Homo sapiens: one gene and its partners. The protein of the gene in region 2 purifies or fractionates together with the protein of the main gene of each other region. This does not show direct contact. Each region holds a gene or a part of one and is shown on either strand. Other genes may lie near its edges. The genes, in order: RAP1A, OR2T10 and LETM1.

Region 1 (3,500 bases), about 140 Mb from region 2:
GGCACTAAAGGAAATGAGATGGCCTGGGTGCAGTGGCTCACACCTGTTATCCCAGCACTTTGGGAGGCCAAAGACAGGAGGATCCCTTGAGTCCAGTTCAAGACCAGCTTGGACAATATAGTGAGACCCTGTCTCTACAAAAAATTAAAAAAAAAAAAAAGCTAGGTGTGGTGGTATGCACCTGCAGTAGCACCAGCTCCTCAGGAGGTTATGGTGGGAGGATTTCTTGACCCTGGGAGGTTGAAGCTGCAGTGATCTGTGTTCACACCACTGCACTCCAGCCTGGGTGACAGAGAGAGACCCTGTTTCAAAAAAAAAAAAAAAAGAGGAAGTGAGATGGATAAAGAAAAAAGTAGTGAGTAATGGAGGATAAGATGCTTGGAAATTAGATTAGAGAGGTATTATACTTATTGGTAATCACATAGCCTAGAGTAAAACCATGGTATGAATGCCTTAAAGGTAGGATGGACATCAAGGAAATGACAGGCCAAGCCAGGGTAGTAAATCATTTATAATATCCATATAGATTCTATATGGATAGTAAAATCACTAAGAATTCTGATTGAATCAGTGTATGTGAAAGAGAGAAAGCAAAAATCTTCAAAGTGTAAGGAGTGATTTTGAGACAAGATTATGCAGCTGTTTGTAAGGTTTTATGCAAGGTACTGGGGACACAAACAAGCAAATAGGCCTTATAACACAGCGTGTTGAGTGCTAGATGGGAGACAGACACGATATTGGATAGCACAAAGTAAAGATCTCTGTGATAGAGAACTTCCTTCTTACAATCTGGACAGAGAAAGAAGAATGCCCGTACACTGTGGATGTGATTTAAAAAAAAAAAAAGCAGAAAGTATTCATTTTAGCTATTAGGGTCTCTGGAAACAAAGGGGAATTCTGCTGATTCAGAAGCTAAAAACATTAGAGAGCAGGAGGGTGGGAGAGGGAGAGATAGCTTGATTCAGCTGATAGAAAATGTAGTTTCAGAAGGTCTTTACCAGAAGCTTGTTGTGAGGGCAAAGGTCCCTGATAAGAGTTAAGCCATTTTCCCAAAAAAGAATGGAAAAATACAGTATAATTAGTACTATATTGTTGTATAAAATCACTCCAATTTGCTTACATGCTTTTTTGAACTATCTGAAATGTTTCCATCATTTATAAAAATTATAGTGGAAAACTTTGTGCTGAATTTTAAACAACTTATCACATTTAAAAATGCCAGCCAGGTGCCATGGCTCACACCTATAATCCCAGCACTTTCAGAAGCAGAGCCAGGAAGAACACTTGAGGTCAGGAGTTCGAGATTAGCCTGGGCAACACAGCGAAACCACCTCTACAAAAAAAATTTTTTTATTAGCTGGGGGTGGTGGTACGTGCCTTTAATTCTAGCTACCCAGGAGGCTGAGGCAGGAAGACTGTTTGAGCCCAGGAGACTGCGGTGAACTATGATTGCACCACTACACCCTAGCCTAGGTGACAGAGCAAGACCTCGTCTCTTAAGCAAAACAAAAAACGAACCCATCCATTTTAAAGCTAAGAATTGCCTAATGTGTCAAGTCTATGTGCATGGAGAAAAATAAACAAAGAAAAGCAAAGATTGCTTAATGTATGTATTTTATGTGGCAGTATAACTGGAAACCATCAGTTATTAATAAAAATTATAAAGGTGATGGTATTAATGAAGAAGAATAAAAGCAAATACACAATTCCATACTGTGTAACAGACATTATGCCTAATGATTTATAATTATTAACTCATTTGCTTATCACAAACACCTTATGATGTACTAACATCATTATACTCATTTAAAGATTAGAAAAAGGAGGCTCAAAATAATTCTAAATCTTCTGAGGAAGATTTTTGCCTTCCTCAGAAAACATGTATCTGTCACCAGCCCCTTGAGATGTCAAAATGCTAGTGAAAAGAAAAAATTATAAAAATTAATGACTATGGTGCCAAGAGACAAGGTCTTATTTAAACCCATAGAAATACAAATATTAACTAAAGCTCTAAATTTAAAATAAATTTTAAAAAATCACTGACAGCATAATCCTTACCTCAATGTAGGAAGAAACCCAACACACAGATTATTACAGGTGAACTTTGTGATATGTGAGCATGAACTACATCAGAGTTGATTTCATATACTTAAGAATCCCTATGTTCAGAGAATTTCTTCTTAATCAGAATGATTACTTTTACTCAGAATTATCTGGATGACAAAACCTACTCAGATGACAAAACCTGCTCACAAATTAAAATCTATCAAAAAAAGAGAAAACATCCTTACTGTCCCTGCAGTATCCAGGATTTCGAGCATACACTGTTGGCAATCGACTTCAACTTGCTGTGGGGGCAAAAAAAAAAAAAAGGTTAAAGAGTAACATCAAAATCTCATTCTGTTTTCTTCCCACCTCTTCCATCAAAGTAACTATTAACAAATACAAAGCCTGTCTCCAGCAGTATGCTGTAATGGCTGGGGGTAAACTTGGTACCACAATAAAGAACAGCGGTCTCAAGTACAGTCTATTCATATTACAGAAGCCAAGATGGTTAATGCTGAGTTTAGATATTTTCTGACCTCTGTAACGATTCTTATTTGTTATTAGAAAAGGCAAAAGTCATATTTTGAAATTTAAGGAAAACTTCAACGAACAAGTATAGTTCTAACAGAAAAAAAAGTACATATGTGTATTTATATTATCTCCAAAGAAAACAAAGTACAAAAATATTAAATGGCTCAAAATGCGCACAACATTTTGGGGTAAAGAAAATCTTGCCAACTTACCATGTTCAAGTTGTTAAAATTTTACTAAAATATGCAGAAAATTAAATACACAGTAAAATCTGAGTTTAAGACATAAAAGAAACACAGGAGTACTAAAATAAACAGCAATGAGCTAAAACAGTGCCTCAAGAAAAAGGCACTTTTCTAGAAAAGCTCTATGTGAAAGGTGAAATTTTATACACTGAGTTCTATTTACCCATTGGTCTTATAAAAGAAAAGAAGGTTGGTCTAATGAAAGTATCAACTATCAACTGTGTGGAAAACTGTTTTAATAAAGAAGGGATTAAGAAAAGTTAGTCCCTTAGAATTTTAGGTACAGATCTTGCTTTGCAGTTAAAGCTTTAACTAGCAACTTACTTTGGGGAAATTTCAGTAGAGCAACACTGTCTTCTAAAAATAAATGTGCTAACCTAAAGACTATTTTAAACTCTGCTTCTGTGTCAGATCAGACATTGATGAGGGGCACCACTGGTCAGACCACAAACTCATCCACCCCACCACTTATGGGACAAGTGTGATAATCTGCAAAATTTGTAACTGGGAATGTTCAGTGAATAATCAATTAGGACTATAGTTTCTTGATGTATCTAGAGCATAATTCTGTTTCCAATTTGAAGACAATGAAACTGCTCTACTAGTAGTCCTTCATGAACTAACAAATTAATTCAACAAAAGTTACAGCACTATTAAAGGTAAATTCTAAAAATGTCT
Region 2 (2,594 bases):
ATTGATGAGTATGAAATAACACCATATTCAGAGTGTTCCTCAGCATCCACTCTGTGCTAAACGCTTTTCGTTCACCACCTCATTCGACCTTCACCCTCTGTGGCTGAGGCTAAGGTCACCCACATTTCACAAATGACAAAACAGCCTTTGAGGCTTCCCCTGACTTGCCCCAAGCAGGGGATCCTCAGGGACAAGGGGGTTCATTCATCCATAGGCATTTGGAGATAAACACATTCAAGACCTCAGAGATGCTAAATGTACAGTTGAGATTTTTCTTCCATCAGAATTTCTAGAATGTGTTCTCAATCAAATTCTTATTTTCTGTGAGCATATAAGAAGTCAAACCTCCCAAAATTAGAGCAGAGACATGGGCTATCCAGTAGACATGGGCTACAACATGTTTGGAGTATAATTGGTTTATTCATAGACTTAACCAGAGAAATATGGAAGTTTCGCACACTTCTCCCTGTTCAAGCCAATGGTGACACATACTTAGAATATAATTTCAAATCACAGTTTTACGTATGTGCATGGTTGTATTTGTATTTAACAAATAACATAATAATTATAACGTCTTGTGTGATTATTATGATCTGGCACCATTTTTAGTGCGTGACATGTATGGAACACTTTTATTTTCACAGCCTATTATTAGCCTTATTCTACAGTTGATTTAACTGAAACCCATGGGTTTGAGTAACATGAACAAAAGGGTGTGCAGCTTATAAAGTGCTCAACAGGGATTTAAGCCCAGGCAGGCAGGCCGGAGTCCCTGCCCCTGACCACTGCATGTGCCACGTCTTGTGGAGTCTGTGGCCTTTTCCACACTGCATTGCCTCTCCCTCTGGGAGGGCCATACTCCAACCTTGGAAACACTATAGTTCTTTCCATACCCAATGTTTTCACGTGGCTTTCCCTCTCTTCGGAATGTTTTTTTATCTGTAAGTACAAGGATACGAAGATAACTTTCCATGACTACATAATCTTCCTTTAGGCCCCAAGTCATTCATTCATTCAACAAATAACTACTGAGCCCCTATAGTTTGCCAGGCCCCGTTCTACAAACTGAGGATACATCAGTGAGCAAAACAAATAAAAATCTTCATCTTTTTTAGCACTTAAAGGGTGTATACAGAAAATAAATTTGGTAATTGAGAAGAAGACATGGAGTATTATCAGAAGAAAAGTGTTGGAAAATCTTGAGCAGGAGAGGGGTCTTGGAGTGTGTAGGGGTCACGTTTTATGTAGGGATTTAGGCTAATCCTCACTGGTTATAGTTGAGCAAAGATGTGGAGTTTACAAGTTAATGAGCCACATTGATATTGGGAGAAATGCTTTCAAGACAGAGCATAGGGACATCTACCAGCCTGTCAATCAAGAGTCCAGTAGGACCATGTCTCAGTAATAGGGATGAACTAGATGTAGATTGAGTCTAACTCCAATTATAAAAAATGATAGTAAAATAAATTTTTCCAACAAACAAAAGTGGATAAAATTCTTCAGCCATAGAAAAATTATCTCAAAAGTAAACTCAGAAATATAAGCAAAAATGACAAACATCAACCCCAAAGAGTAATATGTAAATGAGTCATAATCAATATTGACTTAGCAATAATTTTAATGTAATATACAGTTTAGATTTGTGCAAAACTTAAATGTATGAAAAATCATGTTGAAGATATATCAATATTGATGTAGTAGAGGTAGTAATTTGTGTTAAACTTTAGTAAATCAAGAGTACATGCTGTAATGTTTATAGTAAACGCCAAAACAAGTTTATAAAATGAAAAAATGATAGATTTTTATATTTCTAAAAGAAGCAACGAAAGAATGAAAAAGAGACGTGAAACAGATGGGCCAAATAGAATATGGTTAGAAGTTATAGCTCACATAGAACCCCAATTATATCAGTAATTATTACACATTGCATGCATGTATCAAAATATCACATGTGCCCCATAAGTATGTAGAAATATTATGTATCAATAAAATATGTAATATACTAAATGTTCCAAGTAAAATACTGAGATTATCAGATTATACAATATTATGATTACAGACACCTTAAGTATAAGGATGCAGAGAGACTGAGGCTGTAAGAATGAAAGATGTGGCTCCTCCTGCCAATCACAGCTGCTGGGCCCAGGGTGGTTCCATCCATCCCCCGCCTCACCATGGCTTCCTACAGCCATCGCCAGTTGTCGGGCACATTGTCCTTCCGGGGCCTGGGCGGAGGCTCCGTGCATTCTGGGGCGGGGTCGCCTTCAGCGCAACCAGCATGCACTGGGGCTCCGGCGGCGCGGCGTGTCGGTGTCTTCCGACATTATTTCATACATTATGTACATATATTTCATACATTATGAAATCATGACCACCATCAAGCTCGTTAACATTTCCATCACCTCACAGTTATTTTTTTTTTGGTGTGGTTAGAACACTTAAGATATCCTCTTAACAAATGTCAAGTATACAAGATTTATTCTCTTAACAGATGTCAAGTATACAAGACAATATTGCTAACTATAGTCACCATGCTGTATATTAGCCCTCTAGAAATTATTCACTTTTGCATGACTGAACTTTGTAGCATTTGA
Region 3 (3,737 bases), on a different chromosome or scaffold from region 2:
GGGGACAACAGTGAGGGCTGTGTGGGAGAGGTGGCCTCTGGCCTGAGCCGCCTGGGGACAACAGTGCCATTTGTTGAAACTGGGGAGGACTTGGGGAGGAGCAGAATGAGGAGGGGCGCTAGTTGAGAGTTCTTGGAGGTGTGGACTGTGCCGTGCCCATCAGACCTGTGGGGCGTGTGTATTCAAGTCAGGGAAGAGATTGCCTGGGGAGGAGGTGGAGGTCAGGTAGGGAGGCTCTCCCAGGAGTGGCAAGGGTGAAGCCAGGTGAAGAAAGGTTTGTTTGTTCTTTGACCTGATCCTGGCACCAGCACTGAGGGCTGAGAACCCTGGAAGTTTCCTGAATGATGGGAGTGTCTTTTTTCATTTGTTTGTATTTTGAGACAGGGTCTTGCTCTGTCACCCAGGCTGGAGTGCAGTAGCTTGATCATGGCTCACCACAGCCTCCAAGCGATCCTCCTGCCAGCTGATGTTTTAACATTTTTGTAGACAGGGTCTCTGTTGCTCAGGCTTAACTCCTGAGCTCAACAGCGATCCACCTGCCTTGGCCTCCCAAAGTGCTAGGATTACAGGCGTGAGTTTGGGAGTGTCTTCTGTTATTCGTTATCACTGCACCTGAGTTTATGCTGATGAGGTGACTCCAGGCAGGCCCTTAGATAGATTGAGGTGCTGGCCATGCTGTGATTAGAGGGTGGGAACTTCCTGCCCCTTCCAGGGAGGCGAGAGGGTTTGGAGATTTAGTTCAGTCCCCATGGCCAGTGGGCCAATACTGTAATCAGTCATGAAGCCTTGATGAGAACTTCTGGGTGAGGAGGCTGGTGAGGCTTCCCACTGGCGTCCACCTAGCTCCACAGGACAAAGGATCCTGTGCTCGGGACCTCCCTGGCCATGCTGTCTGGTTGTTCCTAGGTACCAGGTACCCTTTATAATAAACTGTGACAGTAAGTAGAGCCCATTGCTGACATCTGAGTCATTCTTGTGAATGATCAAAACCAAGGCGGTCATGGGAACCCTCAAATGTGTGGTCAGCTGAAGTTGGGTAAGCCTGGGCACATGGAGTGGGGGCAGTCTTGTGGGACTGAGCCCGTACCCTGTGAGGTCTGCACTAACTCTGGGTAGTGTCAGTATGGAATTAAATTGTTGGACTCCCAGTTGGAGAATTCGTTGGTGTTGGAAAAAAGAACAGAAGGGCTCCCAGCAGGGCCTGGGCACAGATGACACCTGTGCTCGTGAGGGACGTGGAGCAATGATCCCCATCACCCCGAACGGCCTTGACTGGGGGTTCCTTGGAGAGCTGGGGACAGAAGCCGTCAGAACAGGTTTTGGGGAGAGCCTAGTAAGGGAGCCAGTGGGACAGGCAGTGTTAGAGAGAAGGTAGGGTCACTGGGGGACAGATCAGGGAACTCTGGGAGACCTGCCAGCCTGCCTGCTTGCCGGGCGGAGCCCTTGAGGCACAGGAGCTGGCCGGGGCAGGGGTGGAGGGGCTGAAGGTGCCATGGTGTGGGGAGGATAGCGGAGAATGCGCTGGGCCCTCTTCATGTGGAGAAAGGTGGGGGCCAAAGCTAGTCTCAGCTGGAGTGAGAAGGGCCTTGGCATGCTCACGTGTGCTGTGCTTTGAATTTTAACTTAAAATGTAACTTGCTGTGTATGAGAACATAGCCAACATTTTCCCCTTAACCCAGCTCCCAGTTCACAGACCGGACTGTTACAAGCCCTAAATGTGGCACGTAGTAGGAATTTCCTTCCCCACAGAACCAGGAGAGTTGCCTCCTGTTAAATGAGGTGAAGTGACGTATCGGTCCACTAGGAGCAGGGTCAGTGCCTGCCCTCCCCATCTTGTTCGTCCTCTCACGGTGGCTCTCGTTGCCGGCTGGAGTGAGCTCCCCCCATCTTAAAGCTGCACTTGCTGCTCCCTGGCTGTTGACTCATTGCAACCCCACTGCTTGGAGGTTCAAGGTCACTGGGCATCTCAGGGTGCTACCTGCTGGCTCCCGGCACCGCCTAGCCTCTGCACAGCCTGGCCTGGCACCTCCGTGGGCTGGTGCCTCTGGCCCTGCTGCTCCTATTCCTGTCTTGTTCCCAGCATGAAGTTTGATCACAATGGGCTCTGAATGTCAGTAATACGAATGAACTCTGACTTTATGCTTATAGGAACTAGAGCAAGTTAGGGAAAGCATCAAAAACATGTTGAAATCCTAAAAATGTGCTGTACACTTATCACTGTTGTTTATACAAGAAATGGCTTACTCTTGGTGTTTTTGTGGTTCTTCTCTTTTTTTTTTTTTTTTTGAGTGCAATGGCGCGATCTCAGCTCACTGCAACCTCTGCCTCCCGGAGGGTTCAGGTGATTATCCTGCCTCAGCCTCCCGAGTAGCTGGGATTACAGGCACCTGCCATCATGTCCGGCTAATTTTTTTTTATTTTTGTGGAGATGGGGTTTCACCATGTGGGCCAGGCTGGTCTTGAACTCCTGACCTCAGGTGATCCACCCGCCTCAGCCTCCCAAAGTGCTGGGATTACAGGCGTGAGCCACCATGCCCGGCCTGTGGTTCTAGTAATTCTTTTTTTTTTTTTTTTTTTTTCTGAGACAGAGTCTTGCTCTGTCGCCCAGGCTGCAGTTCAGTGGTGCGATCTCAGCTCACTGCAAGCTCCGCCTCCCGGGTTCACGTCTGTGCTGGGATTACAGGCGTGAGCCACTGCGCCCGGTCCGGTTGTAGTAATTCTTACAGCTCTTGCCCCTTGGGATCATTGCTTGCTCTATAGGGCTGTCTGCATAGAGGTCATGTTTCCACCAGAGCCAGCTGAAGTGAGTGGGGATGGTGCCACCGGTAGGAGTGCTCCCTCCCTAGGGCTGGCCTGCTTGGCTTCCCTCTTGGGGTGTCTGGAGTCAGGATCTACTTGAGGCTTCCCATCTTTTTTTAGGACTACTTTGAGATACTGTTTTCATAACTGGGGCAGACCCTTCACTTAGCAGTGCTCTGAAACCTTCCAACACTCAGAACTGGCTTCCAGAAACTTACAGAGGTTTCTACAAAAGAGATCTGTACTCTTTCAGATTTTTTTTTTCTTTTTGAGACGGAGTTTCACTCTTGTTGCCCAGGCTGGAGTGCAATGGTGCGATCTCAGCTCACTGCAACCTTTGCCTCCCAGGTTCAAGCTATTCTCCTGACTCAGCCTCCCAAGTAGCTGGGTTTACAAGCATGTGCCACCATACCCGGCTAATTTTGTATTTTTAGTAGGGATGAGGTTTCACCGCTGGTCAAGCTGGTCTTGAACTCCTGGCCTCAGGTGATCCACTCGCCTTTGCCTCCCAAAGTGCTGGGATTACAGGCGTGAGCCACGGCGCCCCGCCTTCTTTCAGACTTAAAAGAAGGTTTCAGGCTGGGAGTGGTGGCTCACGCCTGTAATCCCAACACTTTGGGAGACCAATGCAGGAGGGTCGCTCGAGGCCAAAAGTTGGAGACCAGCCTAGGCAACAAAACGAAACCCCGTCTTTACAAAAATTAGCCTGGCCTGATGGTGCACACCTGTAGTCCCAGCTACTTGGGAGGCTGAGGCAAAAGGATCCCTTGAGCCCAGGAGTTCAAGGCTGCAGGGAGCCGTGACTGTACCACTGCATTCCAGCCTGGGCAAAGTCAAATAAATCAAAATGAACAAAAGGCTGAGCACGGTGGCTCATGCCTGTAATCCCAGCACTTTGGGAGGCCAAGGCGGGCGGATCACCTGAGGTCGGCAGTTTG

The links.
Region 1: the proteins of OR2T10 (region 2) and RAP1A purify together in Homo sapiens (affinity purification with mass spectrometry; one large-scale study listed by BioGRID and IntAct). This does not show direct contact.
Region 3: the proteins of OR2T10 (region 2) and LETM1 purify together in Homo sapiens (affinity purification with mass spectrometry; one large-scale study listed by BioGRID and IntAct). This does not show direct contact.

The regions. Positions count from the first base shown.
Region 1 is NC_000001.11:111,696,289-111,699,788, reverse strand, and holds part of RAP1A (ras-related protein Rap-1A precursor), read right to left. Parts: intron 2,349-3,500; coding exon 2,292-2,348; intron 1-2,291. UniProt on the Homo sapiens protein: Counteracts the mitogenic function of Ras, at least partly because it can interact with Ras GAPs and RAF in a competitive manner. Together with ITGB1BP1, regulates KRIT1 localization to microtubules and membranes.
Region 2 is NC_000001.11:248,589,906-248,592,499, reverse strand, and holds the end of OR2T10 (olfactory receptor 2T10), read left to right. Parts: 3' UTR 1-2,013; downstream 2,014-2,594. UniProt on the Homo sapiens protein: Odorant receptor.
Region 3 is NC_000004.12:1,849,487-1,853,223, reverse strand, and holds part of LETM1 (mitochondrial proton/calcium exchanger protein precursor), read left to right. Parts: intron 1-3,737. UniProt on the Homo sapiens protein: Plays an important role in maintenance of mitochondrial morphology and in mediating either calcium or potassium/proton antiport. Mediates proton-dependent calcium efflux from mitochondrion.